2 linked regions of the Homo sapiens genome follow. The protein of the gene in region 1 purifies or fractionates together with the protein of each later gene. This does not show direct contact. Each region holds a gene or a part of one and is shown on either strand. Other genes may lie near its edges.

Region 1 (4,081 bases):
GGAATTCCAAATATTTGGTATACCCAGTTCGATCACTCTGAAGAGTCCACTCAAAAGCCAGAAGCTTGCCTGTTGTTGCTGTCGTTTGGGATTAAGAAAACTTCATTCCATTACATCTCAACATTAACCTTAAAGGTACCCCCTTACTTCCTGCAGGTCCTTAAATGATAACAGAAGTTTCCCAAACCATCCTATGGATGAAAATCTGTGACCTCAAGGGACTGAAGTCATACTAATGAAAAACCTAAGAAGCTGAAGAATGTCTCCCCCTATTGGATGATTTAGCAAATGTACAGCATGAATTCCTCATCGAATCTCATCAAAAGTCAAATTCTTATGGCAGTAGGCCAGTATTTCTCAAAATGGGGCCAAAGATACATTCTACAAGGTCCAAGAAGTTTCCATAAGACTTACATATTTTTGTTTTCATTTGTAATTAAAAACATTAATATCCATATTCTGGATTATCTGTGTTGTGAGTATAAATTTCAGTGCCCAGGCTTGTGTTTGCTCCATGATCTCACTGGCACCTAGCTGCCCACTGCTGTTACAGGCAGACATGAATATGATACATTCTTGCCAAATCAACACTAACCAGGCAAGGCAGGCTACACGATTAAAGGTTTCAAAGTATTTTAAATAGAAAATGCAGAGGGGCAGTTGAGTAGAGTTGGGTATGTGATAGCAGTCTGACCAAAACCCCCTCCCTTCTTGCCCTGAGCAGCACTTTGGTTTCAGCAAAATCTCTTGTCAATGTAACTGAATGTTTTCAATTTAAGTTTTGCAGGCTGTTTGGGTTTATTTGTACAACTGCTTTCTGATTTGACTTTCTGACTCTGAGTTATGAGTTCTAAGCATCAAGACTATGGAGTGTTACCTAGTTTAGGACTGTATACATTTAAACAATTTAATATAACTCATTTAATGCTGGAAATCAGACTGATGAGCTCATCTATTCCTGCTGTCATCATCGGATAAACTCAAAACCAGTTAATACAACTCTCTATAAAGACAGAAGTCCGGAAAGTCCTTTTCCTATGGTTTCCTCTTTTGGCCACTGTGGCTCTCTGCTCTTCTCTCATTCTGCTAGAGAAGCAGCAAGAGGAAAACAGAGGAGGGTCCCTCTACTTTCCTTACAATTAAGGCTTAAAGAAAAGTGCTCATTTTTCTCATCTTTTACTCCAAGGAATCCAAGTTTCCCTAATTCTACGAGGCACCACATCTGGAAGACAGGATTACTGTGTAGGCTTAATTAAGGCAAACAGGCCAGAACCTTGCTTTTAATTCAGGCTGTAGGCTCCAGGGGCACACACGTTCCAGGTTCAAAGGGACAAAGAAATCATAGTTGGCTGTTGAGACAAAGCACTGCAGTGAGACATCCCATCCCCTCTGCATCTCAACTCTTGGGATGGGCCATGGGGAGCTGCTGGATCAGTGACTCAGGGTCTTGGCCATCTTTCTTTCTACAAAGACAGCTTCACAGCTAGAAAGGCTCTTAGGATTACTCTGCCCAAACAATATTATAGAAAAAACAGAGTATGACAACTAAGAAAAATACTGAAATAATGCTAAAATACAACGCCGACTCTTCATATGATAGGAGAAAAATGTCCAAATTGAGAGGAAAATTGGTGGATAGTGGTGGTGCTAATGCCTTTTGGTGCTTCACTGTGAAACCACTGACAAGAAAAGAAACACAGTAACTTGGGCATGACCTTAAGGCTTCTGGGGCAGTGCTGATGAATATGAAGATAGTTAATTTAAGAGCTACACAAGTACAACAGAATTTCTGTTCCTTATCATTAAAAAGCACATATTTAACGCCTAACTGTCCAAGGCATATAGTCAATGGGCAAATAAACCTTTCATCTTTTGCTTTTCAGAATTCTCATTCAACCTAAAAATGCAGTTCTCCATGGCCTAAAACTGGTTCTCCAGAAGAGCAATTTCTGATACCTCTACTGGGGACACAGTGAGAACCAACACAATCTTTTTAAAATAAGTGTTGTTCCAAATGATGGCTTCTCTTTATTTCCAACATGGCACCCAAGTATCTGGTTTTAAACTGCCCTAAAATCCTATATGCCACTATAAGAGAAAAACAGGCAATTGAATTATGAGAACAGTGAATATAAATCAAACAATCATCTTTTAAAAAACTGCTTCTGGCTGGGCGCAGTGGCTCAGGCCTGTAATCCCAGCACTTTGGGAGGCTGAGGTGGGCAGGGCAGACCACCTGAGGTCAGGAATTCGAGACCCCCTGGCCTCGCCTGGCCAACATGGCAAAACTCCTTCTCTACTAAAAATACAAAAACTAGCCAGGCGTGGGAGCACATGCCTGTAATCCCAGCTACGCGAGAGGCTGAGGGAGGAGAATTGCTTGAATCCGGGAGGCGGAGGTCGAAGTGAGCCAAGATCGCACCACTGCACTCCAGCCTGGCTGACGGAGTGAGACTCCGTCTCGAAAATAAATAAAAAGTAAAAAACATGCTTCTATTATCCTTTCAAATATTCAAAATTCCTAAGGAGGCTGGATGCGGTGGCTCACGTCTGTAATCCCAGTACTTTGGGAGGCTGAGGCGGGTAAGGTCAGGAGTTCGAGACCAGCCTGGCCAACGTGGTGAAACCCCGTCTCTACCAAAAAATATAAAAAAGTAGCCAGGTGTGGTGGCGCGCACCTGTAATCCCAGCTACTCGGGAGGCTGACATAGGAGAATTGCTTGAATCTGGGAGGCGGAGGTTGCAGTGAGCGAAGATTGTGCCACTGCACTCCAGCCTGGATGACAGAATGAGACTCCATCTCAAAAAAAAAAAAAAAAAAATTCCTAAGGACTTTGCAATAATCTTAGGTATTCTCTCTTCTCAGAAGCTAGTCAGTCATTGAAAGCCTTATGACTATTTGGGATCTGGGAGCTGGTCCATGGGTTAAAACTGGAACATTTACTCACTATGTAGTCTTCATCTTCGTCCTTGGGGCCAGGGCTGTAATACACTCTGTATGCTCTGGCCACTTGATCGACCTCTTCTCTCGTGCCAGTCAAGCCAACCAGTTTGGGAGAAAATTCTAAATAAAAAATGAGAGAGACAGTGAAAAATGAGAAGCCAGTAAAACAACCATCTCTACTTCAAAAAATGTATCAGTTGTAAAGCAGCTCTACTGCCACTTTCTTCCTGTGAGTCTCCAAACATTTCTTCACGATTCAAAGGAAAAGGAGAAGAAATTCACAAAGAACAAATGAAAATTCTCCTTTGTAATATATAAGTCAAATCTTTTTATGACTATCTAGTAAAGACCTGGAGGGAATATTTTCTAATCACTTGTATCACATTTTAAATTGATTTTTAAGGAGTAGTCACATGTAGTTCTCAGATATACTAAAGCTTAAAATTATTATCATAAATTAAATACTATAACTTTTCATGGCATCATATGGGGAAAAAAATTTGCTTCATAACTAAGTTCATATCAGGTCAAAATACCTGTGTCTTATTTTCCTGCAAATAATTTCAACACTGGTATCAAGTTCTACTCTTTACTTCTGATTTAAAAAAACTGGTTAATTAATACTAGTCATCCCCAAAACGCAATCTTAACAAAGTTCTGAAATAAGGGCAAATCATTCACAGCGTGTATCTGCTATTAAGTTTTTGGAATTCATGTAAGTGAACCGGTAGAGGTCACTTAAAACAACTGGATTCATCAAACTACTGAAATGACAGCCCAACATTTAACAGCAGTTCCTTTTTCTAAAGGTACAGAAGCCAATTTTTGTTCCTTGGATGAACTCATCATTCTAAATGAGACATTGTTCAGATTCTGAAAAGACAGGCTTTCTTTTTCCACTCTGAGTAAATAAAGAGAAAGGTGAATGAAGCCTGAGTTAGCTGCACATTCAAACTTTTTTTAAAACTAAATTGCTGAAACTGCATTTTTTTCTAAATACCAAATTAAAGTTTTAAAAATCTCCCCAAAATGCAACTAGTAATGACTACATCATCAATCGCTATGTTCTGTTGAAAATTACCATAAAGTCTGGTGTTTTGGTTAGGTACAGCAACTCGAATGTCTACTCATTTGGGG
Region 2 (3,790 bases), on another chromosome or scaffold:
CTGCGGACCCTCCGCCCCAGGCTGGGGACAGCAGCCACCTCTCAGGCTGCTACGGACAAGAGCTGAGAGGACAGAGCGGGCCGGATGGTACCCAGCAGGCCTACCTTGGAGAGGCGGTGAGGAAGAAGCCATCGAAGAGGCTGCTGCAGAAGTCCTCAAGGGCAAATTCGTCGGCCAGCAGCGCAAGGTTGCCCGTGAGCAGGTGGAGGAAGATGTCGCCAAAGGCCAAGTCGCCAAAGGTCTCCACTGCAGACACAGCAGGCATCAGCCCAGTGCCACTCACCCTGCCCACCCCAGAGGGCACCCTTGTCCTCAAAGACCTCAGAACCTACTTCTGGGGGTGCTCACATGAGAGTTCTCAGTTGTTCTGAGATGAGAAGCACAGGGTCTCAGCAGGTGAAGAGGGGGGTGGGAAGTGGACAGAGGCAGGCAGGGGGTGGGACCTGTGGCAGGGAAGCAGAGCTGCAGCCCAGGGACAGGAGGGTGGAGGGAGGGGGAGACAGCCCAGGGACAGGAGGAGGGTGGAGGGAGGGGGAGACAGCCCGGGGACAGGAGGAGGGTGGAGGAAGAAGGAGACAGAAAAACGAGGTGCTCCTCCAGTCCCAAAAGGCCTTGCCCAGCAGCCGAGCCCAGGAGAAACAAGCCTAACAAATACAGGGCCGGCGCCAGCTGCAGAGAGTTCTCCCTGACTGCCAGCTACACTGAACCACAGGAAAGAGAACGAAACTCTTCCACATTCTTTTCTGAAGCCAGACACCAAAACACAACAAAGACAGCATTCGTGCCCACAGACGCCTCACGTGCGACCACAGCACAGAAGCCACGGTGTTGGCAGACATTTGCCAAGAGCCAGCACAACGCCCCAAACGGGGCCCCTGCAGGGAGGGAGGGCGGCCGCCTGCAGACTGATGCCTGAAGGAGCTGTGGCCAGGCCACATGGAGGTGACGTGTGCGGACAGGTTGAGGATGGCCTTCCTAGTATCCCGGATGGGGCCTTTATGAGGACAACCCAGCTGGCGCCACCTGCGCCCAGAGTGACAGAAACATTTCCAGGAGACCCAGGCCCCCGAGGTGCCTGCCTGCCACATCTCACAGGGCCTTGGCCGGCCACATGGCCAGGTGGCCACGGGACACGTGGCAGGCACACAGTCCCGACCAGGGGATCCAGCAGCAAGGCCCCACTGGGCAAATGCCCTGATTCCTGCAACTCCGGGGAACCCAAGACTGCGAGACAGGAGAGGGGACAGCAGGCGCATCCCAACCCTGACGGGACCGTCCACACAGCAGGCAGGAGACACCTGGAGAAGCGCAGCCACTGTCAGGCAGTCAGTCGGCAGAGGAGCGGCAGTGAACCTGGCTCAGATGTGACAGTGGCCCGTGGTCCGTGGTCACTGGTTTTTATTTTTTTTGAGAAGAGTCTCACTCTGTTAGCCAGGCTGGAGTGCAGCGGTGCAATCTCAGCTCACTGCAACCTCCACCTCCCGGGTTCAAGCGATCCTTCTGCCTCAGCCTCCCTCAGCTGGGATTACACGCGTGCGCCACCGCGCCGGGCTAATTTTTCTATTTTTAGTAGAGATGGGGTTTCGCCACATTGGCCAGGCTGGTCTGGAACTCCTGACCTCAGGTGATCCGCCCGCCTCGGCCTCCCAAAGCGCTGGGATTACAAGGTGAGCCACCATGCCTGGCCAGTTTTTTAAAGGCATTTAAAGACAGTCTTATTTTTTATTTGTTTTTTTTGAGACGGAGTCTCGCTCTGTCACCCAGGCTGGAGTGCAGTGGTGCAATCTCGGCTCACTGCAACCTCTGCCTCCTGGGTTCAAGCGATTCTCCTGCCTCACCCTCCCGAGTAGCTGGGACTACAGGCATGCGTCACACACGCGGCTAATTTCTGTATTTTTAATAGAGATGGGATTCCACCATGTTGGCCAGGCTGGTCTGGAACTCCTGACCTCAGGTGATCCACCCGCCTTGGCCTCCCAAAGTGCTAGGATTACAGGCATGAGCCACCAAGCCCGGCTCCCCGCCCTTTTTTTTTTTTTTTTTTTTGAGACGGAGTCTGGCTTTGTCGCCCAGGCTGGAGGGCAGTGCCGTGATCTCGATTCACTGCAACCTCTGCCTCCCAGGTTCAAGCGATTCTCCTGTAAACGCATCCTTCTTTTGTAGAGATGCCTACGTCTGCAGCCTGCATGCTGTGATGTCTCAGATTTACACCCAGACATCGTGCTGAGGGACAGGCGGCCACACGCAGACCCCACGTGGACCCCGGGGAGGTTGGAGATGGTGCTGGGTCCTCACCGTACCATGCTCTTGACTTCGTATTCTTTCACAAATTCCCACCACAAAATGTTAAAAAATAAACAGGAGAGAATTCTAAAAATCAACATCCATTCTTACTAGAACCCGCTAAAAACTTAAGAACACGCGTGCTCTCCCCAAATGTGACTGAAAATGCACATCCCACCCCGTGGGGCAGCCACGTACTCCGAGAAGCTGCACTCCTGGTTCCCAGCCTGTTTCTAGCCACAATCAAATGAGAGAAAGAAACAGAAGCGCACGGAAGGCCTCCCAGGTGAGTCTGTCATTGTGCGAACTCCACAGTGACTGACACAAATCCAGAAGGTGCCACCCACTGCACACTGGGCTGGGCCATGGCCTCATGCCCCTGAGCTAGACACCTGCACAGCACATGGCTGTACTGAGTACTGAAGGCTGCTGGGACACAATGGCAACTGTGTATCTAAATAGAGAAAGTGGAGTAAAAATACAGTATTGTCAGCTTATGTGACCGCGTGGTCGTATATGTGGTCCACGGTAGACAGAATGTTATGTGACACGTGACTGTACTGCAGTGGGCAGGCCAAGGCAAATTAAAGTTATTTATAACTATGTTCCCGGAAGTCTCAAAAAATAAACAAACCGGCTCTGCCCGGCGGCCGGCAGCACGATGTCCCAATGCCCTCAAGAGCCTCCCTGAGCCTCCAGAAGGAGCGGCAGTGTTGGCACCCGCAGAAGCCCAGGAGGTCATGTCTGCCTGCGCTGTCTAATGCCACTGTCTGTGGTCATTCGTTCCAGCAACAACAGGAAACCCAGGCCCAGGCAACCCAAGCTCAGTGAGAGGATGGCTGGGGACAGGTTAATACCCACAGGTAACTTCCTCCACAAAGAAAGCTGGAAAACGCATGCACGCGCCATCCTCAAACACACCAGCCACCGAGAAACACAATAGGCACGTGCTGTGGTGTGGACGTGTCCCCAAGTTCACCATCGGAAACCTGATCCCCAACGCAACACTGCTGAGGTCGTGAGGGCTCCGTCCTCACCAAAGCGTTCTCGCTGTTAGCACAGGAGTGGCTCCTGATAAAAGGGTAAGTGTGGCCCCTTCTCTGTCTCCGTCTGTCTGTGTCTCATCTCTAGCTCTGTCTCTCATCTGTCTCTGTCCTGTGTCTCTCATCTGTCTGTCTCCATGTCTCTCCTGTCTCTGTCTCTCTTACCTGTCTCTCATCTCTCTGTGTCTCATCTCTGTCTCTGTGTCTCTCATCTTTGTCTCTCATCTTGGTCTGTGTGTCTCTGTCTCTCATCTCTGTCTGTGTCTGTCTGTCTCCCCTGCCCGTGCTCTCTTGCCCTCTGCCTTCCACCATGGGATGACACAGCAAAAAGCCCCAGCCAGATGCAGGCCCCTTGACCTCGGACTTCCCATCCCAGCCCGCAGAACTGGGAGAAGTCCCTGCTCTTTGTTTTTTTGAGACGGAGTCTCGCTCTGTCGCCTGGGCTGGAGTGCAATAGTGCAATC

Evidence for each region.
Region 2: the proteins of SCO1 (region 1) and NELFB fractionate together in Homo sapiens (co-fractionation; one large-scale study listed by BioGRID). This does not show direct contact.

The regions. Positions count from the first base shown.
Region 1 is NC_000017.11:10,683,779-10,687,859, forward strand, and holds part of SCO1 (protein SCO1 homolog, mitochondrial), read right to left. Parts: intron 3,065-4,081; coding exon 2,949-3,064; intron 1-2,948. UniProt on the Homo sapiens protein: Copper metallochaperone essential for the maturation of cytochrome c oxidase subunit II (MT-CO2/COX2). Not required for the synthesis of MT-CO2/COX2 but plays a crucial role in stabilizing MT-CO2/COX2 during its subsequent maturation.
Region 2 is NC_000009.12:137,268,537-137,272,326, reverse strand, and holds part of NELFB (negative elongation factor B), read right to left. Parts: intron 247-3,790; coding exon 105-246; intron 1-104. UniProt on the Homo sapiens protein: Essential component of the NELF complex, a complex that negatively regulates the elongation of transcription by RNA polymerase II.